4 linked regions of the Homo sapiens genome follow. The protein of the gene in region 3 purifies or fractionates together with the protein of the main gene of each other region. This does not show direct contact. Each region holds a gene or a part of one and is shown on either strand. Other genes may lie near its edges. The genes, in order: PNPT1, MGME1, HMGCL and GLS.

Evidence for each region.
Region 1: the proteins of HMGCL (region 3) and PNPT1 purify together in Homo sapiens (affinity purification with mass spectrometry; 3 studies listed by BioGRID and IntAct, with this or other methods). This does not show direct contact.
Region 2: the proteins of HMGCL (region 3) and MGME1 purify together in Homo sapiens (affinity purification with mass spectrometry; 4 studies listed by BioGRID and IntAct, with this or other methods). This does not show direct contact.
Region 4: the proteins of HMGCL (region 3) and GLS purify together in Homo sapiens (affinity purification with mass spectrometry; 3 studies listed by BioGRID and IntAct, with this or other methods). This does not show direct contact.

The regions. Positions count from the first base shown.
Region 1 is NC_000002.12:55,634,829-55,641,854, reverse strand, and holds part of PNPT1 (polyribonucleotide nucleotidyltransferase 1, mitochondrial precursor), read left to right. Parts: intron 1-1,149; coding exon 1,150-1,228; intron 1,229-4,255; coding exon 4,256-4,303; intron 4,304-5,462; coding exon 5,463-5,618; 3' UTR 5,619-7,026. UniProt on the Homo sapiens protein: RNA-binding protein implicated in numerous RNA metabolic processes. Catalyzes the phosphorolysis of single-stranded polyribonucleotides processively in the 3'-to-5' direction. Mitochondrial intermembrane factor with RNA-processing exoribonulease activity.
Region 2 is NC_000020.11:17,965,086-17,972,043, reverse strand, and holds the start of MGME1 (mitochondrial genome maintenance exonuclease 1 isoform 2 precursor), read right to left. Parts: upstream 3,027-6,958; 5' UTR 2,903-3,026; exon of another isoform or gene 2,430-2,902; intron 2,244-2,429; 5' UTR 2,185-2,243; coding exon 1,674-2,184; intron 1-1,673. Other genes in the region: SNX5 (sorting nexin-5), read left to right, coding at 3,619-3,669. UniProt on the Homo sapiens protein: Metal-dependent single-stranded DNA (ssDNA) exonuclease involved in mitochondrial genome maintenance. Has preference for 5'-3' exonuclease activity but is also capable of endonuclease activity on linear substrates.
Region 3 is NC_000001.11:23,815,430-23,822,455, forward strand, and holds part of HMGCL (hydroxymethylglutaryl-CoA lyase, mitochondrial isoform 1 precursor), read right to left. Parts: intron 5,165-7,026; coding exon 5,081-5,164; intron 2,155-5,080; coding exon 2,047-2,154; intron 1,342-2,046; coding exon 1,246-1,341; intron 1-1,245. UniProt on the Homo sapiens protein: Mitochondrial 3-hydroxy-3-methylglutaryl-CoA lyase that catalyzes a cation-dependent cleavage of (S)-3-hydroxy-3-methylglutaryl-CoA into acetyl-CoA and acetoacetate, a key step in ketogenesis. Terminal step in leucine catabolism.
Region 4 is NC_000002.12:190,925,805-190,932,830, reverse strand, and holds part of GLS (glutaminase kidney isoform, mitochondrial isoform 1 precursor), read right to left. Parts: intron 5,526-7,026; coding exon 5,349-5,525; intron 2,395-5,348; coding exon 2,263-2,394; intron 1,287-2,262; coding exon 1,194-1,286; intron 175-1,193; coding exon of another isoform or gene 145-174; exon of another isoform or gene 116-144; coding exon of another isoform or gene 1-115. UniProt on the Homo sapiens protein: Catalyzes the first reaction in the primary pathway for the renal catabolism of glutamine. Plays a role in maintaining acid-base homeostasis. Regulates the levels of the neurotransmitter glutamate, the main excitatory neurotransmitter in the brain.

The sequences.
Region 1 (7,026 bases), on a different chromosome or scaffold from region 3:
AAAAAAAAGCCAATTTCAGTCTCAAAGCATTTTTTTTGACCAGCTAGAAGAGCTTGTTTTTTTAGGATAAGAAAATCCCTCTTTTAAGAAAAAGGAAATTATCAAATGTAGCAAAAATGTTCAAAGCTATTTGAAATAAAATAAAAGGCAAGGAGATAATTTGTTTAATATTGCAGGTGAAAAATAAGAAATGGGATGGCTTATTTTCATAGATTAGAGAAAAAAGGGAAGATTAGTTTTTTAATGAAATAAGTATTCCATTTTACCTGACCACCTTCCTTAAATCCTTACCTTACAGGTTAATCATATGAGATTCTATACTATTTTTAAAATATTTAATGTCATTTCGAAAATTTTTGGAAAATCGAGACCAGCCTGGCCAACTTCGTGAAACCCCATCTCTACTAAAAATACAAAAATTAGCTGGTCATGGTGGCACATGCCTGTAATCCCAGCTGCTTGGGAGACTGAGGCATGAGAATGACTTGAACCTGGGAGGCGGAGGTTGCAGTGAGCCCAGATGGCACCACTGCACTCCAGCCTGGGTGGCAAAAAAAAAAAAAAAAAAAAATGTTTTTGGAAATTGTTAAGAGAAATACAGAAGAACATATATTCTAAAAGTTTTTTTTGTTGAGACGGAGTCTCACTCTGTTGCCAGGTTGGAGTGTAGTGGCACGATCTCGGCTCACTGCCACCTCCGCCTTTCGGGTTCAAACAATTCTCCTGCCTCACCCTCCTGAGTAGCTGGGATTACAGGTGCGCGCCACCAGGCCCAGCTAATTTTTATATTTTTAGTAGAGACGGGGTTTCACCATGTTGGCCAGGGTGGAGTTGATCTCTTGACCTCGTGATCTGCTCACCTTGGCCTCCCAAAGTGCTGGGATTACAGGTGTGAGCCACCGCACCTGGCTCTAAAAGCTTTTCTATTGCATGTTTTTTCTTTATCTTTTCTTCATTCTTTGATTCACACATATTTATTTATAGGGTATATTTTCAGTTGAAAAGTATACTTTTTATAGTTCTAAAAACGTGCTAGAATTGTTTCTTTTCGTTTTTTACTTTTTCCTCATATGAAAACAATGTTTTATTTGTCAATGGATATACAGATACTTATTATTTTAACCAGGCTTACTATTTATTTTTTTGTAGAGATACTGGTGTAATGGTAAAATTATATCCAAATATGACTGCGGTACTGCTTCATAACACACAACTTGATCAACGAAAGGTAAAAAGACAGATGTTATTGTTATTATTTTTATAACTGCCTTGAAACACTGTATTGAAATTACCTAGGTTGGTAAGAATTATACACTTTGCCTACTACTAGCCTAAACAGAGAAAACAAGTGGCAGAGATGCTGCTGGCAAAAAGTTTTACATTGTTTAGCATAAAGAAAAATTGGCTGGGCAGGGTGGCTCATGCCTGTAATCCCAGCACTCTGGAAGTCCGAGGCGGGTGAATCACAAGGTCAAGAAATGGAGACCATCCTGACCAACATGGTGAAACCCAGTGTGTACTAAAAATACAAAAATTAGCTGGGCGTGGTGGCGTGCGCATGTAGTCTTAGCTACTCGGGAGGCTGAGGAAGGAGAATCGCTTGAACCCGGGAGGCGGAGGATGCGGTGAGCCAAGATTGTGCCACTGCACTCCAGTCTGGCGACAGAGTGAGACTTTGTCTCAAAAAAAAAAGAGTGTCTGTTTTACCATATATTAAAATATATTATAAAGCCATAGACAATAAAATAGTATATTACCGGCCCAGAAATAGATAATCCATGCAACAAGAAAACAAAAACTAGAAATAATATACATGGGATTATAATATACGCTAGAAGTTGTATTATAGTCAGTGAATAAAGATTATTTAATAAATTATATTGGTACAGCTGGTTATCTTAAAACAGGATCTCTACTCATTTTTATACCTAAATCCTGTCTGGATCAAAGAGCTAAATGTGCTTTTTAAAAAAGGTGGTAGGAAAAGATAATCTTGTTGGGGCAGGAGGGTTTACTAGAAGAAAATTGGATGTTTTAATAAGATTAGTAGTGGAGAACTCCTCAACATGATATCAAAGCCAAAAAAGTAAATAAACTTACAAAATTTGACCCCATAATTTTTTAATTATATGGCAAAAATTTCAATAAGGTTAAGAGATAATCAGCAACCTAAAGTAAAAATGCTTATATGCAGAAGCTTAATTTACAAAGGGCTTTTATAAATCCGTAAGAATGATGAATATCAATAGAAAAATAAGTAAAGAACATGAACAAATTATTTTTATAAAAAGCCAACCAAGATATTTAATATCAACAGCAATTTTTGAAATGCAAATGAAATTAAGATATCAGTTTTAACTTTCAGATAGTTTAAAATTCTCAGTGTGTATAAGAGAAAAGATGGACATTTTCATACACTGTTGATGGGGGTGTGAATTGGGACAAACTTTTTAGAGGGTGTTTGGTAAATGTCTATGGACCTAGACATTGTAGGATTTTATTTGGAGAGGATAATTAGAGTAGATGAATTCATGATTTGTGCTACACTGCAACTTATTTTTTTTCACCTTATTATTTTGAAAAGTTTTTAATGTACAAAGAAGTTGAAAGAATGATACACTAAACCCTCATATATCTTTCTCCTATATTCATCAGTCATTAACATTTGCAACACTGGAATTTAAAGCAATTTATTGTCTTTAGGTGATTGTTTAAATAAACTATATAGTTTGAAACTTAACGGTAATTCTTAATTTATTGATATGAAAAGATGTCCTTGGGCCAGGTGCAGTGGCTCACGCCTGTAAGCCCAGCACTTTGGGAGGCCAAGGTGGACGGATCACTTTAGGTCAGGAGTTTGAGACCAGCATGGCCAACATGGCAAACCCCCGTGTCTACTAAACATAGAAAAAATTAGCTGGGCATGATGGCGTGCACCTGTAATCCCAGCTACTCTGGAGGCTGAGGCAGGAGAATCTCTTGAACCTGGGAGGAAGAGGTTGCAGTGAGCGGATATCATGCTACTGTACTCCAGCCCGGATGACAGAGCGAGACTCCATCTCAAAAAAAAAAAAAGATGTCCTTAAGATATACAGTAAGCACAGAGGGTCCATTTTTATAAATGCCGTACACATACACTAAGTAGACATCTGAAGGGATACTCATTGGAATGTTAGCAGTAGTTATCTACAACTTGAGAGGGTTTTGAGACAGGGTCTTGCTCTGTCACCCAGGCTGGAGTATAGTGGCATGATCACAGCTCACTGCAGCCTCAGCCTCCCAGGCTCAAGTGATTCTCCCACCTTAGCCTCTGGAGAAGCTGGGTCCCCAGGCACAAACCGCTACACCCGGCTAATTTTTTTGGATTTTTTGTAGAGATGGGGTTTCTTCACGTTGCCCAGTCTGGTTTAAGCAGTCCTTCCACCTCGGCCTCCCAAAGTTCTGGGACTACAGGTGTGAGCCACTGTACCCAGCCTGTTTTGGATAATTTTTATGTTCTTAATACATCTGTATTTTAAATCTTTATAATTAACTGATTTTTTTTTTTTTTTCTGAGACAGAGTCTGACTCTGTCGCCCAGGCTGGAATGCAGTGGCATAATCTCAGCTTACTGCAACCTCTGCCTCCCAGATTCAGGCAATTCTCCTGCCTCAGCCTCCCAAGTAGCTGGGACTACAGGCGTGTGCCACGACACCCAGCTAGTTTTTGTATTTTTAGTAGAGATAGGGTTTCACCATGTTGGTCAGACTGGTTTCGAACTCCGGAGCTCAAGTGATCTGCCTGCCCCAGCCTCCCAAAGTTCTGGGATTACAGCCGTGAGCCACCATGCCCAGCTGATTTTTTTTTTTTTTTTTTGAGACGGATTCTCTCTCTGTCACCCAGGCTGGAGTGCAATGGCGTGGTCTCGGCTCACTGCAAGCTCCACCTCCTGGGTTCACGCCATTCTCCTGCCTCAGCCTCCTGAGTAGCTGGGACTACAGGCGCCCGCCACCATGCCCGGCTAATTTTTTGCATTTTTAGCAGAGATGGGGTTTCACTCTCCTGACCTCCAGAGATGGTCTCAATCTCCTGACCTCTTGATCTGCCCGCTTCTGCCTCCCAAAGTGCTGGAATTACAGGCTTGAGCCACTGCGCCCAGCCGCTAACTGATTTTTTTAATCAGAAAAACTAATAAAGCTTGAGGAAAAAATGTGTACTTCCATGGACACTACATAATTATGCACAACAACTAATAGATTAACATTTTTTTTTCCAGATTAAACATCCTACTGCCCTAGGATTAGAAGTTGGCCAAGAAATTCAGGTATTTGTATTCCACCTTTTAGCCTTGAAGTTGTAAATTGTTCTTGAAGCTTCCATTGTTTTTTTCAAAAAGTTGAAAGAAGAGTCACCATCTATGAAGTTTTTTATTTGTATGCAGTACTTCATTTTTAATCTTAGAATTGCTTGAACAGACTCATTAAGGATTTAAGACACAATTCTTTCCCTCAAGGAGCTTGCAGCTTGGCCAAAATGGTAGTCACCCTTAGTTCGTTTAAAAAATACATGAGCATGTTAGTGTTAGCTATGCAGACTCCATGATTTGGGCACTGACGTAAGAACTGTGATAAGGTAACTTGTTAAAGTCTTTGAATGTCATCTTTGAGGAGGTGAGACTTTGTTTCTCCACTACTTAAAGTTTTTGAGCTTGGTAAGAGCCATGTTATTCAGGCCTAGAATTCATATAACAAAATTGGCCCTTTCTTTGTAGTCCTTTATGAGTGGATGAAAGAAGTCATTGCCAGTCTGTTTTTTCGGGCTCCACCACATTGTCTTTCACTTACGCTAATACGCATGACCTGAGTAACTAAGGCTTCTGGTTTATTCCCAATGTGTAGTCTTATTGTCCAAGTAGCCTCCAGGGGAAGATGAGTGCTAAGATATAGTATCTCTGTATAAGGTTGATTTTTTGGTTTATTTGTTGTTGTTGTTGTTGTTGTTGTTTTCACATCAGAAGGAACTTTAAACCTTTGCATTTGCCCCTGACTTTCATTTTCCAAGGTGAAGCCAAATAAACACTAATGTGTTGGTCCTTTGAGCAGTAGTGAAAATCCAAGTGACCTAAGCATAATCCTCTATAGTATATAACACAATTAGGCTCTCAAAGCCCTTGTCTAGGATCATTCACTATGCCTGTGACTGTTCCCCCAGTATAAGGACTTGGCCTGGTGAGAATAAAAAGGCACAGATGAGTTCAGCGGCAGATTATAGTTGAACAACTAACTGCCCCGTCTCTTTTCTCTTTTATAATGACTACTTATATGTGTTAAGTGTATACGTCCACTTAGCACTGAACAATGCTTTCAGTGAACAAGTAAAAACAATCATTGCCTTATTTGGACCATGTAAATTTAAATGTCTATTAGTTTAGATGTCACTCAATGTGCTGTAACTTTAAAGGAAGATCTGTTTCTTTAACACAGGTGAAATACTTTGGACGTGACCCAGCCGATGGAAGAATGAGGCTTTCTCGAAAAGTGCTTCAGTCGCCAGCTACAACCGTGGTCAGAACTTTGAATGACAGAAGTAGTATTGTAATGGGAGAACCTATTTCACAGTCATCATCTAATTCTCAGTGATTTTTTTTTTTAAAGAGAATTCTAGAATTCTATTTTGTCTAGGGTGATGTGCTGTAGAGCAACATTTTAGTAGTATCTTCCATTGTGTAGATTTCTATATAATATAAATACATTTTAATTATTTGTACTAAAATGCTCATTTACATGTGCCATTTTTTTAATTCGAGTAACCCATATTTGTTTAATTGTATTTACATTATAAATCAAGAAATATTTATTATTAAAAGTAAGTCATTTATACATCTTAGAAAAAATTACATAGTTTTGTTTTTACAATTCTGAAATATATGAAAAACTTAGATAGAATATGTCATATGTTATTATAACAGATCTCTTCCTACATCTTATTTTTCTTCTTTGTATACAGTAGTGACAGTTTACCTTCAGTCATCCTACAGGTCACCTCTGTGCCCAACAACTTTACTTGCCTACAACGGTTCACAAACTGGAACAGGCCATATTCAAAGCCAGTGCCTATTTCTTCAGAACTGTTAACAGATATAGTGAGTTGAGGGAGCTAATCTGATACACTTTTGATAATATAATGCCTTTCAAATTAGTTACCAAATCATAAACAGAGTGGAATAAATATAAATGAGATTCTAACTAGGATGAATGTGGTAGTAATGATGTATATTTTTCAAATTTACCTAAACAGAAAGATTATTGGCTAAGGCAGGCGGATCATGAGATCAGGAGATCGAGACCATCCTGGCTAACACGGTGAAACCCCGTCTCTACTAAAAGTGCAAAAATTAGCCGGGCGTGGTGGCGCATGCCTGTAATCCTAGCTACTCAGGAGGCTGAGGCAGAAGAATCACTTCAACCCAGGAGGTGGAGGTTGTAGTGAGCCGAGATTGCGCCATTGCACTCCAGCTCAGGCAACAAGAGCAAAACTCCGTCTCAAAAAAAAAAAAAAAATTGTTTACTTATCAAATTGAACTAGGTCAATTTGAATATGTGTATTGCTCTAATGTATGGAAGTTCTTAGTATAAGAGCTGAAGGATCATGACTTTCGGTTAATAGATGTTTGAAATAGATGTTTAGAGGTTACTGATACACATGTCAAGTTGTTCATTCCCATCATTTAAAATATCACCTTATAATTCCACAGAAAAGTAAATGGTATGTGGACGTCATAATTTAGAATGTGTAATCTTTTTTAAAATCTTATAAAAATACACTGGACTCAGTGGTACGTGCCTGTAGTCCCAGCTACTTGGAAGGCTGAAGTGGGAAGGTCACTAGAGCCCAGAAGTTCGACACTGTAGTGTGCAACAATCATACCTGTGAATAGCTACTGTACTCCAGCCTGGGCAACATAGCAGGACTCTTATCTCTAAAAAAAATTTTAAATCTTATAAAAATGTAGGTATATCTGGCCAGGCATGGTGGCTCACACCTGTA
Region 2 (6,958 bases), on a different chromosome or scaffold from region 3:
TGATTCTGCCTGGGCACAGTGGGTCACACCTGTAGTCTCAGTATTCTGGGAGGCCGAGGTGGGAGCACCACTTGAAGACAGGAGTTGGAGACTAGCCTGGGCAACATAGGGAGACCCTTGTCGCTACAAAAAATAAAAAAATTAGCCAGGCATGGTGGTGCACGCCTGTGGTCCCAGCTACTCAGCAGGCTGAGATGGGAGAATCACTTGGGTCCCGGCGGTCAAGTCTGGGCGGGGTGCTGGGGTAAGCGATTCTGCTCATTTCTTAAGGTTGCTACTGAGTTAACTGAGAAACACAGCTGAGTGCTAATCTAGATCAACAAAGCTGACTCTATGAAAAAAAAAACAACCAGTCTTCTCTCTGCCTGGGCTATTGGGGCTCATTCACATTCCAAACAGAAATTCCTCTCTGGTGCACTTCCTTACTTTGTGCCAAGAGCTACAGGCCCTGGGGTCCCATGTGTTCCAGCAGGTTTCTGCCTTTTAATAATACATTTCTTATTAGTAATTTCAGCTGTACATTCCTGGTTTAAGGAAAATAACTTCTCATGAGAAAACTATCAATTCTAAATTTTAGTGGTACAAATACAAAACTGTAAGATGCCATTAGAAGATTTTTATGTTGCTTGCTTGGAAAGCAGACAATAGTTTGGTGGTTGCTACTAATTAACTATCTTAGGAAGGCAGTTAGCTCTTGCATATATAATCCTTGCCCCACACAGCTGAGGAATATTATAAGGAGCAAAGGCCTTGACCATTTGGTACATATCCAATACCACCTATATATACTTAGTATTTTTCTTTAGAACATGTGACATGTTTAATGTGTTACACGCATAGTTTTAGGAGTCTGGATTAGGGAAAAGACGACTTAAATAGAAGCCCAGGCTATGGCAAGGGTCAGTACACTATTCTTAAAACAAAAATGAAAGAGTTTGTGTACTACTAAGAGTACATGTACTGCACTTTGGGAAGCTTGGGTAAAGGAATGATTGATGTGAAACTTTCCTTTAACAAAAGACCCCTATATAATTTATGGGACTAGCTAATTCACCAGTGCCAATGGTCTTTGTTTTTGAATGGAATATTAAATTTAAGGAAGCTATTCTCCTCACTTGTCCAAGTTAGTAAATTAGAAGTTGAAGGTTAAAGTGTATTTATCCTCAGATCCTTATGAAGAACCTCTGATTATGTTTACCAAGGTCTAAATATAGGTCATGTGTTCTGGTCTGCTTCAAGGTCTTTAAATTTACGAGTCAGTTTACGCTAATAAGTAGGACAGTGGGTATTTACTGGATTCTAAACAGAATTATCTAGCAAACAACTAGAATTCTGTTACCAGGTGACTTTTTTCAATAATCAAGGAAAACAAGCAATTCTAATATTGTTGGTAGCTTATAAAACAAGTGAATTTTATGTATTATTTAGTCAAATATTTGATCTATTTTAGTTTCATCTGTAAAATGTGGATAACAGTATCTATACTCCACAGGACTACCATGAGGATCAAGTGAGTTAATACACATAAAGTGCTATTTAATGTTAATTACTATCTGAAGGGAGTTCCTTGCTAGTAAGTTAAAAAAACAAAACCAAACCTCATTCTTTTGACACCGTTGCTCTCTATTATAGAAAACATAGCAAACATATAGAATCAGAATTGAGATAATTACTTGAAGTGTATTCTTTAAAGCCATCTTCTCCCAGTTCCAGAATCATCCGCTGTTTCCACCTCTCCAACAAGAAAACCTGTTGTTTTGTCATGGTCTGCTGAAGGACTCGGGTCACACTTGGTATCACATTCCTTTGCAAGGGGATTTTCAAAGGAACTGAAGGATCACTTGCATTTGGTTTATCACTTCTCTCTGGATTGAAGATAGGAAACCAGTTTTGTGGCACTCGTCTGTCCTCACCTTGGTTTGGCAGCTTATGCTTGCTCACGGGTCCACAGAGCAAAGCATCTTCCTCCACCGATCCCGGGGTCTGGGCGACGCCTCTGGATGACAAGACAGACTGAACTAAATTAGAGTATTTTTCTTGGTCCACTTCTTCATATGGGTTCACTTTTTTCTTCCGGCCACATGAGTAAGAGGAAGTAGAGAAAGCCACAAGGGCAGCTGATTCCACAGAAAACTTTGAACTCCTGAGCTGCCTGCAAATGGTCTGAAATAACTTCATCTTCATTCAGATTTGTTTTCACTTTAGTCTATTTGCAACGGTCGAAGGCCTTTATGTTTGTATTCCTATTGGAGAGAAAACAACCATCAAAGCGAAAGCTGCATCAGAATGATATTGCACATCAAAATTGTGAACTTTTTCGACATGTTTGGACAGAGCCCTTTCTTAAGAAAGTCGACAGAGCGAGACCCTGCCTCCAAAAAAAATTTATAAATAAATCAAGACTCAATACCCGAAGGACCGACACATACTAAATGCGAATTAGTAGACAGCTTGAGGCAAGACGTCCCAGTTTCTAATCTGCAGGAATGTGACGCCCAGGAAGGGAGGCGTGTGCGAGACACGGAAAAACACAAAGATGGAGCCCGTCCCATGGCGGCCACACAGTCCTAGGTGACAGACGACGACTAATTCCTAGACACCAGGCTCTCTGCTAAGTATTCTGTGTGGATACTTCTCATTTGGTCCTCACACCCTCTACCGTGGGTCTAGAATGAACCCGTTGCACAGACGTGGAAATCGGGTTGGAGGGTCCCGTCGCTCGCCGGTCAGAGCTGGTGGCGGCGCTGAGGTCCCATTACTGTGACCGCAAAAAGTCGCCTCCCGCTCCGCCGTGGGTGCGGACCCCTGGCGGGGCCAGGACGGCGGTGGCCCCTGTGGCAGGAGTCTGGATTAGAGAAAAGACGACTTAAATAAAAGCCCAGCCTACGGCAAGTGTCGGTACCTTGGAAGCCACCACACTTCGCTTAACTCTCAAGGCGCGAACAACCTCTCGCGACCCGTACTTTCATCCGTCCCGCGCTTTGGTTTCGAATTAGGCACAGCCTAAGGCAAAGCAGGTCCAGAATGCCCCGCGGCGCTCACGCCCCACCCGAGGCTTTCGTCGGCCTCCGCCAACGCGCCACCAGTTAGAGGCAGGGAGTACCTCTCCGAGCGGAAGGGCCGGCGTCTCCGAAGCGCGGGAGCCTCCAAATCGCGCCCTTCTGCTCTCACGAGATCTGGTGACGTCAGCGCTCGCTGCCATCTTGGACTCGGGCTGAGTAATAAATTCCCCCCGCACCGAAACGCGGTCTTTCTCTAGACGCGTCTTGCTGGGAGAGTGTCCGTTGCTTCCCGTCCGTGTCGCGGCCCTGCGGTTGGCGGCCTCCTCGTGGAGCGGAGCAAGGGTAGGCCCCACGTGGCGTCTTTGCCCGGCTCCAAGATGGACGGCAGCGGGGACTGGGAGGCTGCTCTGGGGGAGCACGTGGCGCCCTGCTCGCCTGCTCCCGGGGCAGCTGGGATGGTGGCGGAGTCCGGAGGCCTCCTGCCGCCGTCGGGCAGGGAGGCCGGCGGAGGCGGGGCCGTGGCCGCCCCCGAGAGGCGCCCAGGCGGCGGCGGCGGCGGCCCAGCTTCTTCTTTCCTCGCACAGCCAGGCGGCCCCTGCTCGAGTCCCGCGTCGCCATGGCCGCGGTTCCCGAGTTGCTGCAGCAGCAGGAGGAGGACCGCAGCAAGGTGAGGTCCTCCCAGCCTCAGACTCCTGGGCGGGCGGCCCTGCGAGCTCCGGGGTCGCTGCATTCTTTCCCTTGCGCGTCCATAGGCCGTGGCTGCTCGCCGCCATCCCCAGCGCGGGAAGCACCCGTGAGACCCGGGCGGCCCCTCTCCCTGGTCTTCACTGAAGGCTGCCCCGGGGAATCCCTGTGGATGTCCCGGATTCTATTAGGACAGAACCAGAGACGCGGGACCTTAGCCCCAGCTCAGGCGCCGGTGCCGAGCGGACTTGGAGAGATGATCTCTGGAGACCCCGGAATGTTCTTTTTAAAACTTTCCTCGGCTTCGTGGTGACCAGTAGGTGAACGTGAAATTGACTTAACATGCGACAGACCAGTTTGGTTTGTTGCCCCCAAAATACCCTCCTTCCCCCCACCTTTTACTGAGAAGACTTTTTTGGGGGGGGGGCCCAAACAACTTGGGAAATTGCATCAAGCGTCCGAACATGCTGCTTACAACTTTAGAAACGCAAAATGCGTTGTTGTGGGAGTTGTGTAATTTTTAGTAGGTGCTCAAATACTTGCTGAACTTGGTGTCTATTTTTAAGTCTTGCCCATTGATGTAAACTGTCCCTAGGTCACGTGTATCTTGAGGTCTAAAAGATTATTTATGCAATAAATTGAAATTCCCATAGCCAATTAAAGATTCAGACGAGCCTCCACTCTTTTTCATTGGTTCTTTAAATTTGCCTCGGTAGCTTTGCGATGCATGGTTTGCGAGCAACCTTTCTTGCAGAATCGTCAACGTAAGTTTTTCTGACCGATGAAAAAGAACCTCTAAAAATACAAGGCTCTCTTAAAATGTAATTTGGAGCCGTCTTAACTTACACATTTCTTGAGAAGTTAAAGGCACCTCCATAGAGAAACTTGTTCATCTAGTAAGTAAATACCAGAGTTTCAAAGCGGCTGGATTGTTCCAACAAGGGTATCATTGCATTAATTATTAAAATAGAGCTTTCTATACAGGAGGGTGTTGTTTAGAGTGGTTTTTTTTTTGAAAGTTCTTTATTACTAAAACAAAGTGGAAACTTGAGACCACGATTCTTTGTAAAACATTATAAAGGTACTTTTCTCCATAAAGGGTAGATAATGGATTGGGATTTTGGTAGCATTTTATTTTTTCTTTCTTTCTGGTACATTCTTTTAGCTGTCTTGATTCGGAGTCAGCTAGGTAAAAGGACTCAATTGCTTCACCCCACTCTCTGGTAGTACAGTATATTGCAGCTGGTTTTTAAAATGACTTCCACCACCCTGATCCTCCAGCAAAATTGGAGAATGGTTATGAAGGCCATTTCCTGCCTGTTTTAGAGGCTACAGAAACTGTCCGTATCTGTAGCGAAGAGAGTTACATGACATTGTTTTCCTTTTTACATTACAGGAATAAAGAGACAATAAAAATAAATAATTACCCTGACGCGTGGCTTTATTTTTGTTTTCTGATCTCTGCTGATGCTGATAACCTGCTGTGGTCTGGCCTAGATGGTGTTATGGTTAACTGAAAGGGAGTTTGGGGCAAGTATGAAATAATGGGAAACTAAGTCTTGGGCAACTTTTTGCCATAATACAATTTCGGTAGTCAACTGAAATGTTTTGTGTGTTACCTGAAATGTGTGTTACTTAAATTGTTTAAATGCCCTCCTGATAATTTACTTTGGTTTGGAATTCTCCCTAAGGATGGAGTTAATTAAGACTCACTAAGGTAGGGGGACATACTTGATTCTTCAGGATTTTGAATTCTAGCCCAATACTCATTTTGGCCAATTCAGCAAAACTGAAAGGGAATACTGTGTCAGTCGTGTCTGGTAGCCAGACACTGGCATTTTGTTACATTCTTTAGCCGAGGGTGTTGGGGTTTGCCTTCTTCCTCAGAAAATAGTTCAGGGGAAGAGATGCATGGTTAATTTGGTTCCTAACTGGTCCTCTATTTACTGGTTTTTGATTTTTTTTTTTTTTTTGAGACGGAGTCTCGCTCTGTCGTCCAGGCTGGAGCGCAATGGCTCGATCTCAGCTCACTGCAACTTCCGCTTTCTGGGTTCAAGCGATTCTCCTGCCTCAGCCTCTCAAGTAGCTGGGATTACAGTCGCTCACCGCCATGCCCGGCTAATTTTTGTATTTTTGTGGAGACCGGGTTTCACCATGTTGGCCAGGCTGGTATTTGAACTCGACCTTCGCAGCCTAGTGCTATTTTTAACTAGGGGGTTCTCCTTCCTTGACAGTAACAACTTGGCCTTAACTTACTGCTTGGTTACAGGGACTTTGGTGAATGATATCTGTCCTCTTACCTACTCAGGAGTGTTTGTAGACTAAGTACTGCTGCTCTGGTTTCGTGTTTAACTGGTGTGGAAGCTGCCTCTAGGGGTATTTTTGTTCTCCATTAGCTAGAATGGAGTGCAGTTGGTTAGTATAGGAACAATCCTGAACTTTGACCAATACCATAGCAAGTCCAAACTTACAAACTTTGTGGACTGAAGCTTTATGCTACCCTTGCAACTATTTTCTAAGTTGAGGAAGTATGACGTATCAAGCTTCCCACGCCTTAGTTCTAGTTCAGTAACTTGTACTCGGTGTCTTAAGATCCCCATTTGTGAATACTCTAAAAGGTCATTATCTGTTCACATTATTTTGGCCATAGGTAGAAATGGCCAAGAGGCTTTTTTTTTTTTTTTTTTGAGACAGGGTCTGGCTCTGTCACCCAGGCGGGAGTGCAGTGTCACGATCACAACTCACTGCAGCCTCGACCTGGGGAGCTCAGGTGATCACCCCCACCTCAGCCTCCTGAGTAGCTGGGGCTACAGGCACACACCAGCATGCCCACCTAATTTTTGTATTTTTTGGTAGAGATGGGGTTTCACCATCCAGTTCAACATGCCGGGATTACAGGCATGAGCCATTGTGCTTGGCCAAGGCTGTTAAGTTTTCTAGATTTGTTTCTGAGCTGTAAACTCCTCATTCGGTGAGACCTAGTGGTCATCTAAACTAGAGGTTGAGTTTAAAATTCAGTTTCTCAACCTGGGGAGCACTGTTGACATTTTAGCCTGATCACTTTTGTTGAGGAGTGCCCTCTGGGTTGTAGGATGTGAAGCAACTGTTTTTGGCCTCTGCTAGGACGCGGCCTCCTCCCCTCCCATGGTGATAAGAAGTCAAAATTGCCTGTTTGAGAATCACTGGTTTAAACGGACTTCCTTCTAAAATGGTGTGATATGGGTGGGGTCAGGTTGTGTTACAGAAGCTAGTCTTTGTGTGCTTGTTGCGAA
Region 3 (7,026 bases):
CAGACTGTGAGAGAATAAATTTCTGTTGTTTTTAAGCCACCCAATTTGTAGTGCTTTCTTTTTTTTTTTCTTTTTTCTTTTTTTGAGACAAAGTCTTGCTCTGTCACCCAGGCTGGAATGCAGTGGCATGATCTTGGCTCACTGCAACCTCCGCCTTCCGGGTTCAAGTGATTCTCCTGCCTCAGCCTCCTGAGTAGCTAGGATTACAGGTACCTGCCACCAAGCCTGGCTAATTTTTTGTATTTTTAGTAGAGACGGGGTTTCATCGTGTTAGCCAGGATGGTCTCGATCTCCTGACCTCATGATCCGCCCGCCCTGGTCTCCCAAAGTGCTAGGATTACAGGCGTGAGCCACCGCGCCCGGCCTGTAGTGCTTTCTTACAGTAGCACTAGGAAACAAACACAGTAATTTCTCTTAATTAAAAAAAAAAAAACTTTGATTTTCCCCAAGGAAACCACCACCACTGCCATCACCACCCTGGAAGTCACTCTTGAGAAAAAGCTTTTTTTTTTTTCTTGCTGTGTCACCCAGGCTGGAAGAGTGCAGCGGTATTATCATGGCTCACTGCAGCCTCGAACTCCTAGTCTCAAGCCATCCTGTGCCTCAGTCTCCCGAGTAGCTAGGACTACAGGTGCATGCCATCACAGCCAGCTAATTGATTTTTTTTTTTTTTTTTGTAGAGACAAGGTCTCCTTATGTTGCTCAGGCTGGTCTCAAGCTTCTGGCCTCAAGCTGTTCTCCGGCCTCAGCCTCCCAAAGTGCTGGGATTATAGGTGTGAGCCACTGTGCCCAGCCAAAAAAAGGTTTTTGCCTAAATACAGAACCAACGCCTCCAAAGATGTTCTTGTCTAAAATTGTAAGAAAGTTGGCAGATGCCAGCAACTACTGTTGAAACTCTTGTGGAGAGTTTGGTTACATTTCTCTAAAGAAGTGGATAATCAAAAGAGCTAACATTTATTAAGCAGTTACCTTTTATCTGGCTCTTGCTAAGCAATGTACATGCATCCTATCTTCTGAAATGCTCACAACTTCAGGTACTATCATTTAGCCCTATTTTATAGGCTTGTCAACTTGTCAAGATCACAGAGCAGTGAGTGGCAGGGCCAGGTTTGCCCCAGGGTCTGGCTGACAGACAAGCTATTCAGATGGACATCCCAGGACAGGGGACTGAGGCGCCAAGACAAGGCAGGGACCAATGCCATCAATCTCATTTCAGGAGCCCCCACCAACAAGCTATCCTCTTACCGCTGCCTCGAAGCCTTTCAAATTTGGGGTCAGGACTGGGTAGTTGATGCCAGGAAACTTCTGAATGCCCTTCAAGACTTCAGTGTGGTCACCCATCTAGGAACCAAGGGAGACATTGCCAAGTCATCACCAAGAGCAGACAGAGAGTTCAGTTAGAGAAAACCTTTTCATCACAAAACCTCTGTTCTCCAGAACTCTTAGCGAGTAATTCCTTCTGCAGAGCTGAGTCTCTCCAATACTTTTACTGTTTGTTTGACTGCTGATGGCTCAGAAGGGCCCTTGGTTTGGCTGAGATCCCAATTTCTCCATATGGCCCATACTGCCAGCTTTACATATGCAGAAACAGCAGGAATACTACTACCAGCCATTTATTGAGAATGTACTCTGGGCCAGGCACTGAGCTCAGCTCTGTGTTAAGCACTCCTTTGTAACAGGATGTTTCTTCTTCACTTAACTATCTTTGTGAAGCAGGAGTTGTCAGTCTTCCTCTTTTACAAACAAAGAAACCACAGACAGGCATAGAGGGTTTTAGACTTTAGGGCTAGAAGAGGTCATCTCTAACACTGAGGAGGGGAAGGCCTTAGCAATGTCACTGAGCAAGTCAGAGCAGAGCCAAGACTGAACCCAAGGCCCTGAATCCTGGGTCATGTTCTTTTGCTGCAACACAGTGCTATGAATCACCTGAGACCTCTCAAAGCCAGGGGCTTGGAAACCTATGTTCTCAACTTCTACTTGCTTCAAAGGCAAATGCAAAACTTTTCATCCCTAGAGAAAGGCCTTTCATTGAGGGCTAGGGCTCACCTGGGGAACCCACTTAGGAGACACAAAGCTGGTGGTTTCTATAACAGAGAGTCCTGCTTCAGAAAGCATGTCTATCAGCTTGATTTTCACTGGAGTAGATACGATATTCTATAGTGGAGAGAGAAACACCAAGGCAGCAAAGTTAGTAACAAAACAGCCTCAAAATGCAGTACCTGTTAGTTCAAGTACTATAGATAATTTTTTGCAGTGGATGCAGCTTCTCACCTGAAAAGGAGTTATTTACATAGAAACATTATTCTGCCATGCAGGCTTTCCCGTAAGTAAATGTGTGTTAATTTATAATCCCATCATAAACAAACTGAGAGCAATGTGTGATGGCCTGAAAGGGCAGAGATGACTAACCCTCTGGGGAGTATGGGATGGGGCCCCCAAAGTATCACACCCTCCTCGCTTCTGTCTCCCAATTGGCATAGGACTTCAGCCTCATGTGTTCAGCGTATAGCTTCTTTATCTTCCTCCCCACCATGTCCAGTAGCTCAACAGATTCCATGGATTCCTCTTTCCAAATCTACCATCATTATCCTGTATATAACATGGCATAGTCTCAAGCCACTAATTCATCTTACACAGGAATCCTCCTAAAATGCAGCTTCCAACCTTCCATTCTCTTGCATCAAAAGCTTTCTATGGCTCCCTAATATTTACAGGATTACGCAAAAAATTCTAAGAACTCCAGGTCCAGGCGGACACATTGGCTCACGCCTGTAATCCCAGCACTTTGGGAGGCTGAGACAGGCAGATCATTTAAGCTTAGGAGTTTGAGACCAGCCTGGGCAACATGGCGAAACCCCCTCTCTACAAAAAATACAAAAATTAGCCAGGCGTGGTGGCACGTGTCTGTGATCCAGCTACTCAGGAGGCTGAGGTGGATCACTGGAGCCTGGGAAGTCGAGGCTGCAGTGAGCAATGATTGTGCCACTGCACTGAGTGACACAGAGCAAGACCCTGTCTCAAACAAAAAGAACACACAAAAATACTCCAGGTCCTTCTCGCTAGGTCCTCCCCTTGCCTGCCTTCTCCAGTTTCTCTCCCACTGCTCTAACTTAATCTTTCCACAAAATTTTTTTTTTTTTGAGATGGAGTCTCACTGTATTGCCCAGAGTGGAGTGCAGTGGCACAATCTCAGCTCACTGCGACCTCCGCCTTCCGGGTTCAAGCGATTCTCCTGCCTCAGCCTCCAGAGTAGATGGGATTACACAAGCATGCCACCACCCCAGCTCATTTATTTTAGTAGAGATGGGGTTTCACCATGTTGGCCAGGCTGGTCTCAAACTCCTGACCTCAGGTGATCTGCCTGCCTCAGCCTCCCAAAGTGCCAGTATTACAGGCATGAGCCATCATGCCCAGCCTGTCAAATAATTTTTGAAAGCCCTCCATGTTGCAGGCATTGTGCTAGGTGCCGGGGATATAGCAGTAAGCAGAAGCAGAACAGACAGGATTCTGCCCTTCGGGAACTTACACACTATTGTTTCCAACAAGCACTCACTATTAAAGCTAGGATGGACGTGCTAAAAAAAAAAAAAAAAAAAAAAAAAAAGAGAAAAAGAAAAAAGCTTTTCTTATTGAAAAAATAATCAATATATGATTCTTTCAGAAAAACATGCCAAAAACAAAAGAAAACCACCCTTAGAATCTCCCAGTGATAACGCTATTAACACCCTGGTGTGTAACTTTCTAGATCTGTGCAGCCCAATATGTCACTAGTCACATGTGGTTATTTAAATTTAATAAAAATTGTATAAAAATAAAAATACAATTCCTTGGCCACACTAGTCACATCTCAAGTTCTCAAGGGCCACATGGGTATAGTGGCCACCACATGGAAAAGCTCAGGTCCAGAATATTTCCATCTTCACAGAAAGTGCTGGTCTAGGTCCTAGTCTAGATAAATGCTCCCATACATATATAAACTTTTTTCTTACATAAAAGTGTTAAGATTAAAAAATACATGGCCAGGCGCATTGGCTCATGCCTGTAATCCCAGCACTTTGGGAGGCTGAGGCAGGTGGATCACCTGAGGTCGGGAGTTCAAGACCAGCCCGGCCAACCTGGTGAAACCCCATCTCTACTAAAAATACAAAAATTAGCTGGGCATGGTGGCAGGGGCCTGTAATCCTAGCTATTCGGGAGGCTGAGGCAGGAGAATCACTTGAACCCGGGAGGAGGAGGTTGAGGTGAGCCGAGATTGCGCCATTGCACTCCAGCCTGGGTGACAGAGTGAGATGCCATCTCCCAAAAACACACACACACACACGCGCGCGTGCGTACGCGCACATGCACTATTTGTTTTTGTTTGGAGACAGAATCGTGCTCTGCCTCAGCCTCCTGAAGTGCTGGGATTACAGGCATGAGCCACCACCATGCCCAGTCACATGTACTATTTTATAAACTGCTTGAGTCACTTTATATATACCTATGTTATTAATGGCTTCATAATATTTCATTTTATAAAAAGTCCATAGTGTATCTGACCCAACTTTCCTCATACTAAATATTTAAGTTGTTTCCAACTGTTCTGTGCTTACCAAACAGGTTTGTAAGGAACACCCCCAAGGCTAAATCTCTACATTTGGCCTTCGTGACTTGCTTTGGATAAATCCCCTTACATGGAATTGCTGGGTCTACCCCACCCCACTGGGCTGTGGACCTGGGGACACCAAACCTGTTGCACCACCATTCAGTTTATATATATACATATATTTTTTAATAAGATAGAGTCTTGCTATATTGCCCAGACTGGTCTCAAACTCCTGGGCTCAAGCCATCCTCCCACCTCAGCCTCCCAAGTAATTAGGGATGACAGGCATGAGCCACCCATCCAGCTTGCCCCACCATTTTAGATCATTTAACTGTCACAGGTGTCTGTCCCTGTTTGGCCTCCTCTACTCTCCCCTAACTTGTGCAGAGGAATCACATCTTGCATAGCTCTGTCAACTGCCATTGCACCTATCACACGTAATACTCAAAGCAGATGCTTGAAAAAACTGTTTTTTTGGCTCATTTCCAACTTTACCTTTTCATTTTGTAGTCCATCTCGGGGACCAACTTCCACAATTTTCACCCGCTTTGGTAAAGTGCCCATAGATGAGGTGCTGACCTTTGGTTTAAAAGAGGAAACAAAAAGTATGAGGAAGAGATTGCCACAATTCCCAGGGAGACCAATATGAAAGAATGGATCTATCTTCACTAATAATGAGACAAGAAGAAATATTTCTCACCATTTAATTCACATTTGGTCTATTTTAGAATTAAGAACAAAAAGAATATTTCACTTAGTAACAGGAACAAGCAAGAGATTCATCCTTCCAGTACCGGTTCTCCCCTGAAGTCCAGACTCCTTTTCCACTGCCTACCTGACAGCTCTATTCGCATCTCTTCATATAGCAGTCCCGAAACAGAACTCTAATTTCTCCTAAAGCCCATCTGACTCCATCCTTTCCATCTCTGTCAAAGGCATCGCATGTACCCTACTGCATAAGCCAGAACTTCATTGAGCCATTTCACCTATTCACCATGGCCTATAGGACTCTGTATGCTGCTGTATGTATGTTAGAAGTAGTTTAAAAAGGCCAGGTATTGCGGGGGGCAGTGGCTCATGCCTGTAATCCCAGTACTTTGGGAGGCCGAAGCGGGCGATCACTTGAGGTCGGGAGTTTGAGACCAGCCTGACCAACATGGTGAAACCCCATCTCTACTAAAAATACACAAAAAATAGCCGGGTGTGGTGGTGCACGCCTGTAACTCCAGCTACTCAAGAGGCTGAGGCAGGAGAATTGCTTGAACCAGGGAGGTGGAAGTTGCAATGAGCCAAGATCGTGCCACTGTACTCCACCTTGGGCGACAGAGGAAGACTCCATTTCCAAAAAAAATAAAAAAAGGCCAGGCACGGTGGCTCATGCCTGTAATCCCAGCACTTTGGGAGGCCAAGGCAGGCAGATCACTTGAGGCCAGAGGTTCGAGATCAGCCTGGCCAACATGATGAAGAAACCCCGTCTCTACTAAAAATAGAAAAATTAGCCAGGTGTGGTGGAATGGACATGTAGTCCCAGCTACTCAAGAGGCTGAGGTGGGAGAATCGCTTGAGCCCAGAAGGTTGAGCCTGCAGTGAGCTATGACTGTGCCACTACACTCCAGCCTGGGCAACAGAGCGAGACCCTGTCTCAAAAAAAAAAATTAAATGACTCTATATGTCACTTGATGCTTTCCAATTAAGAAAAGAAAAGACTGTATGAGTTGCCTCCTCTGACCTCCTGGAATCATCACTCGCCCCTACTGTCCACTCCCAACCTCCACCCAACAGGTTGCTAAGCTCCCTGCCTTCTCTTCCCTCTGCCCCAGGGTTCCTCATCTGGCTTTTTTTAAAAAAACTGGCTGTTCTTACATCTCTCTCTCATCTTTCAGTTGCAGAGAGGCTTCCTCTGACCACCCTTTGCAAAGCTGCCATTCCTCCCACCCCCATTATTTTCGCTATTGCAGAGCTATAATTATTTCCTTCAAAGCACGATAAAGAATGCCTACTCAATGTCTCTTCCAGTAGAACATAAGCTCTTTGAGGGACCTTGTCTGTCTCAACTCCACTTCATCCCTAGTGTTTGGCACCGTGTTTGGTACAAAGTAGCCACTCTTTAAAGTTATTAAAATAACACATAAACCATGAAGGACACAGCTGTCCCAGAAGAGAGCAATTACTGAGTGTGGGGAGGAGTAGTCAGTCCTGGACTTTTCGGGGTATGGGCGAGATGCAGGAGGGCTCTCTTCTGTTACAGTCATAGGCTGGGTGATGACAAGCATGGGTCTAAGGGGAGGTGACACCCCCAGTAGCTGAAGACAGTTTTTACAAAATGCCCTGAGTCTCCTCTATATAAAGTCAGCTCAAAATCTTAGTCTTCCCTATCAAGTAACACAATACTTTTTTTTTCCTCTTTCCTCTACCTGTCTTGATACTGTAACTTTTCAAAT
Region 4 (7,026 bases), on a different chromosome or scaffold from region 3:
ATACTACAGTTGTAGAGATGTCCTCATTTGACTCAGGTGACACTTTTTTCCATACTGTCTCTTTTAAAGCAAGTTCTTGTTGGAGACTTTCATAGTCCAATGGTCCAAAGGAATGCTAGTTGTTCAAGCAACATACATAATTTATTAGTGCACTTGAGTGAAGAAAGGTCCAAGCTATAAAATGGTATTTTTCAATGAGCATTATTAAAATGTTAACATTTTAAACCACCACCTCTGACATTTTGCTTCATGTTACTCAGGTCGACTCCCATGGAAGTTTCTATTCTGTTGGTTTTGCATAATTCTTACATAGTAACAGAAATTAATTTGATAAAAACTAACAAAAATTTAGTTTAGCACTACAGAAAATGTACTTAGTATGTATTAAAAATATTTTCTACTTAGAAGTTCTTCATATTATCTTGAGGTCTAATTAGGTAATTTTACTACAAACATTTTCAATATGGTACGCAAAGAAACTGAATCAAAATTCTCAGCACAAGCCCCTTGGTACAGTGAAAAACTATATAGACCAAAAAAGTTAAGTCCTGACTCTTAATACTACTTCTAAAAAAAGGAATATATGTGTACAATAGTATGAAGCCAAATAAACTCGTAACAAACAAATAGGACCGTAAGATTATTAGGAATATTGCATTAAACACGGTGGAAAAAAATATTTCATCTACAGTGACTTATAAAACTTTTGAGGCTTCATACGGTCTCTCACTAATATGATAATCCTTTTCCATTTACATATCCATCTACACAGTATGCAAGAAGTTAAACTTCAATTTAGGACGAACAAATATTAAAACGATGCTTTCTTTATAGCATGCAGCACATTCCAATGTTTTGTTTTGTTCTTTTTTTAACAGAATCAATTCTAAAAATCTTGCTTAAAATAGCAGAAAATGGAAGGGGAAATCCCTGACACTAGGCTAACTAGTTTCAATTTAAATAACAAAACAGCAATATTTAAATATCTGTATCTATTAACTATCTATTAAACAATCTTTAAGTATTTAATACTGGTGATCCCGGATTTATATGTCAACAATTTGTTTACACTCATTTATGATTAGCAAAGACCCGAGGCCACTAACAAACTAAGATTTTATTTATACAGGCAAATCTCACTTTTTCTCTTCTTAAAAATTTTATATACTTATCTAAATAAGAATTTTGCTTACCCTTTGATCACCACCTTCTCTTCGAGGATCAAGTTTTTTTGCAAAGTGTCTCAAATTATCATAGTTATGGAAATTACACAGAGAAACAAGATCCTGTAAACAGTTATACAGAGCAGGTATAAGAAATTGGCTATTCATTGGTTATATATATCCATATTTTAACAAACTCTGCTTATATCGTCCAGCCTAGAAATCATCACTACATGCTAATAAAGTAGTATAATGCATCAAGAAGAGAACTAAAATCAGAGTAAGATATGGATATAAGTTTTAAGAACACTGCTTACTAACATGATCCTAGGGCTCAGCCAATCAAATCATCTTTCATCTTCTACAAAATAGGGTTTATAACCGGCCCCATGAAAGAATTCTTCTATCAAATAAGTGTAAAGCCACATTAAAATATAAATAAGTACTCTGGTTACAATCTACTATATTTTATATGCACTCCAAGGTCATACTCTAGTTTTTGTAAAATATAAAAGACTGGAAAATAAAACAATTTTAATTGAGTATGGTACTTAATATGAACTCAAGCAAGTAATCAATGTAACTAAAACTAGAAGCTCAAACATTAGCAGGAACTGGGTAACAACAAAATACAGAACTATCAAGAGCAGTAACAGTTTAAAAATGGTTTAATCTTTTTTTAATTTTCAGTGCTTATTTCCTCAAAAAAATGTTTAAAGGTAGTCAATGGATAAAGATATTTAACCATGCAGATTAAAGATATAATAAACCAAAATAATTCTTAAGATATACTGGCTTTTAAATTACTTCTCCAAGTTTAATACCTTTTGTTGAGCTTTTGAAAATTCATACTAATTATAACCATGAAAATTAAAATATTAGCATCTAACAAATATAATCTGTGGGAATAATTAAATGGGAGCTGTCTGACAGAGACAACTTGAAGCTCCTCTGGGAGTATTTCCACGGCTCCCTAGTAACTGGCACACTATAGGCGGAGGGCCAAGAGTTAATGAACTATGGAAAATGGGTTAAAAAAAAGAATCATTGGATGGCTCAACTTGTAACACCATTATTTACATTAAGAAAATATGCTTACGTGACAAAAGTGAATTCCCTTAACACTGTTGCCCATCTTATCCAGAGGAGGAGACCAGCACATCATACCCATAACATTGGGGACAACTAAAAGAATGCCCCCAGCAACTCCAGATTTTGCAGGAAGACCAACCTAAAAATAATTCAGTAAAAGAGTATTCAGGTAAACATTTTAAAATAAGAAATGTTATGTTCAACAATAGGGAAACTGGGGCTGGGCACCATGGCTCACTCCTGTAATCTCAGCACTTTGGGAGGCCAAGGCAAGCAGATCACTTGAGCCCAGGAGTTGGAGGCTAGGCTGGGTAACACAGGGAGATCTCGTCTCTACAAAAAACAGTGAGACATGGAAGTGCACACCAGTAGTCACAGCTACTCTGGAGGATGATGTGGGAGGATTACATGACCTCAGGAGGTCAAGGCTACAGTGAGCCATGATCGCACCACTGCACTCCAGCCTGGATGACAGAGCAAGATCCAGTTTCAAAAAAAAAAAAAACACAATTGGGAAATTGGTTTAAAAATTAAAAATTATCTCCTGACCTTGTGATCCGCCCGCCTCAGCCTCCCAAAGTGCACGCCTGTAGTCCCAACTACTCGGGAGGCTGAGGCAGGAGAAAGGTGAACCCGGGAGGCAGAGATTGCAATGAGCTGAGATCATGCCACTGCACTCCAGCCTGGGCAACAGAGTGAGACTCCCTCTCGAAAAAAAAAATATATATATATACATACCATAGAATTTCAACATTAAAAATATTGTAGATAAATTTTTATCAACATGTTTATAAATAAAGTTATAAGGCCGGGTGCGGTGGCTCATGCCTGTAATCCCAGCACTCTGGGAGGCCGAGGTGGGCAGATCACCTGAGGTCAGGAGTTCAAGACCACCCTGGGCAACATGGCAAAACTCCGTCTCCACAAAAAATACAAAACTTAGCCGCGTGTGGTGGCAGGCACCTGTAATCCCAGCTACTCGGGAGGCTGCGGCAGGAGAATCGCTTGAACCTGGGAGGCAGAGGTTGCAGTGAGCCAAGATCGCACCACTGCACTCCAGCCTGGGTGACGAAGCAAGACTCCATCTCAAAAAAAAAAAAATTATGAAACAGTTTGGGATAGATATGAATATAGAAAAATTGTTTAAAGATACATTCTAAGGAATTATAGCAGTTACATCTAAATTGTGAGGCTATGGATGCTTTTATTCTTCCTGACTATATTTTCTAATTGTTCTAAGATAAACGTATTGTTTTTAAATATAACAAATTATTTTTTAAAAATATTTTACAACTAGAAAACAATAAAAAGTTATATATTCTTAAAAGATTTTCTAAAATGGTAATTTAAATTACTCCTCCTCAAAAAATTTAAGTTACATTAGCAAAACTTGACAAATGATAAAAAAAAAAATTAATGTCATTAGAGCAGTGTTCATTAATTGCTTACTAACATTCAGTCAGTCAGTACCTCTGGATAGGAGAATTGCTAGAACCCAGGCGATGGAGGTTGCAGTGAGCCGAGATCACGCCACTGCACTCCAGCCTGGGCGACACAGTGAGACTCTGTCTCAAAATAAATAAATAAATAAACAAACAAAAATAAAAGAAGTATACCAATAAAGTACTTTTACACAAAACTAAACAAAACAAGCAGACCAAAAAAAAAAAAAAAAAAAAAAAACACACCTGAATTGGATCTACAAATTTATAGGAAATACAAGGGACAATGGAACAGAGGTAATCAGCAATGTAGAGACAGTGGAAAACTGTATAGACTAAATTACCCAGTTTTTCCAACCAAAAATAACAAGAAAAAAAGAGAGACAGGTCAAAAGAAGACCAATAGATTTAAAAAAAAAAAAAAAGGAGACAAAACCCAATCATAATGTATGCACCTCATCTGTATCCTAAGTCAAACAAACTATAAAATAATATAATAGGCCAGGTGCAATGGCTCACACCTGTAATCCCAGCAATTTGGGAGGCTGAGGCAGGTGCATTATTTGAGGTCAGGAGTTCGAGAACAGCCTGGCCAACATGGCAAAACCCCATCTCTACTAAAAATACAAAAATTAGCCAGGTGCAGTGGCAGGCGCCTGTAATCCCAGCTACTCGGGAGGCTGAGGCAGGAGAATCGCTGGAACTCAGGAGGCAGAGGTTGCAGTGAGCCAAGATCGTGCCACTGCACTCCAGTCTGGGCAACAAAGTGAAACTCCGTCTCAAAAAAAAAAAAAAAGAAATAATAATTTACAAGATAATCCAGGAAATCTAAACACTAACTAAATATTTTGATATTCAATTTAATATTGATATTAATAATGATATTAAAGTTTTGATATGTAATATTTAATTTTTATATGTAAAAACTGTATTATTGTTATGTTTTGTTAAGGATCCTTATTTAGAATTACATACTGAAATATGACAAGGATAGGGGAAACAGATGCACATACAGATGAAACAAGATTAGTAATGTATTCATAATTAATGAAGCTGAGTGATGGATAACATTAAATGTATCTCTCTCTCTCTCTCGTTTTACATGTTTGAAAATTTCCAAAATAAAAAAAGCTTTTAGAAGGGCATTATGACTTGACATGAGCAGAATGAAATAAAAAAAGTCTATATACTTTACAAGTGGCAAATGCACAACAGAGCTTAAAGCAGTACATTTTTGTTAAGTTTTAACTTTAATACACTTTTAGTCCTTAAAACAGCTATGGCCGTAACCAAAGATGTGAAACGTCACATCTTTGCAATCTTTCTGAACTTAGAGAATTCTTAAGATACATAATCATAATGCTAAACATTAAAAACAAAAAGTAAAGAAAGACTGTACTAACCTTGTACACTGGATTGCCTTAAAAGCAGAAGGGATGAGGTTCTATAAATCAAACTTCCAAGTTCTTAAGAACATCTGGTAGACCTTATCTCTATTCCTTACTAATCTTGTAACAAATTAACCTTGAAAACAAGCCTCTCTCTCAAAAATTAATATACAGCTTTAGAAGCAAAGTTCAAACTGCATTTTTAAAAGAACCAGTTCAGACTAGTTTCTTGCCAGAGAAAATAAGATTAAACAATTACTTACATGGAAAGCAAACTGCCCTGAGAAGTCATACATGCCACAGGAATGCATCAAACTCAATGTATTTCGAACTGCTTCAGGGCTCAGTACTCTTTCACCAGTAATTGGGCAGAAACCACCATTAGCCAGTGTCGCAGCCATCACACTGGCTGATTCACAAGTCACTTCAATGGAGCACAGCTAACACAAAGAAAAAGCAGAATTCTCATACTACTTTTAATATTACTGTTCACTTTTAAGATAATCTATTTTATTTGGTATTTCATACAGATCTGAAATATTTCTTCCAAAGAGATTACTTTAATATAAACTTGAGGACATTCTGAAGATTTTAGTTGACCGAAGTCCTACCCACTTTTAAGATTTACCCTGATTTGGCCAAAGATACTCAGTCTTTTAATGGCAGAACTAGACTAGGAAGTGCCAGCCTCTAAACACTAAGATTTGTTATTATCCCATGTGATATTCAAATTTGCTTAAATATTAATACTTTCTGTGGAATACACAAGCATAATTACTTTTAACTCAACAGAAAAAAAAAGAGCCATGAAATATTTTTAAGATAAAGCACCATACATGAAGATTATGATAGTGTCTACATGAGAAATCACCATTTTAGAAAAAAATGCTACAGTGCCTGACATTTCACCCATAACAAAGTTCGGCATCCCCATCTATATGGTAACAGGCAAAGGAAAAAGGGGAAGAAAAATATAAAGCAGATCTGTCTCAGATGCTCTGTAAGCCTAAACCAAAATGTTATCCTTTAGACCATTTATTAATATTTATTTGATATTTACTATGGGTGCTAAGAATACCCTCTAGGATAAAATTTTTGCATTTAAATACAATCAAAATAATGAAAATAGTTCACCGTACCAAACCCAAATTTACCCATAAAATGAAAATAAATTTTTCCACATTTTATTTTTAGCTAATAGTAAGCAAAATTGGGATGAGACGGGGTCAAAAAATAAAGTGGATAGGAGAAGAATGAGTTCAACTTATAAATTTTCCTCAGCCATACTCCAAGATCTACAAGAGGCACAAAGGGGTTTGGAAATAGCAAGGAGGAAAACTAAGTACAGTGAATTAGAACATTGTGTGTTTAACTTTGACTACATTGCCTATTTATATAAAAAATCTCTTCCCTATTTCTCAAAAACGACAGAATCGACTTGCAATACTGCCCCAGATAGCAAAGATTTGTGATAAGGTCGACTTAATCATGCAAGGCTTTCTGAATTCCAATGATCATTTCCTAATTTATACTTAACATTAATTGGAATTTTGTTTGTCATAAGGCAGCACATTCTTAATTTGCCAAATGCCAACTCGGGTACTCTCCTGCTAATCTCAATGGCCGTTCAATTTGATGCAGCCCTTCTCCAAAAAAGTCAGTACCACTTCTATGGCTGTTTCTTGATTTTTGCAATGAAGTATAGAAATGTCACATTACAGTAGATTCTATAACAGCCAAATTTAAATATGTATTCCAAAGGAAAAGAAACTTACGGAAAAAATTCATACAGACCAGGGGGAAAAAAAAGGCTAGTTTCAAAGGAATTTCACATATCATCTCATGTTATCTTCCACATAATATGGCAAGGCAGGTGACGCATATACTACACATAAGGAAACTAGGGATCAGTAACTAAAATTAGGTCACATGGCTAATAAG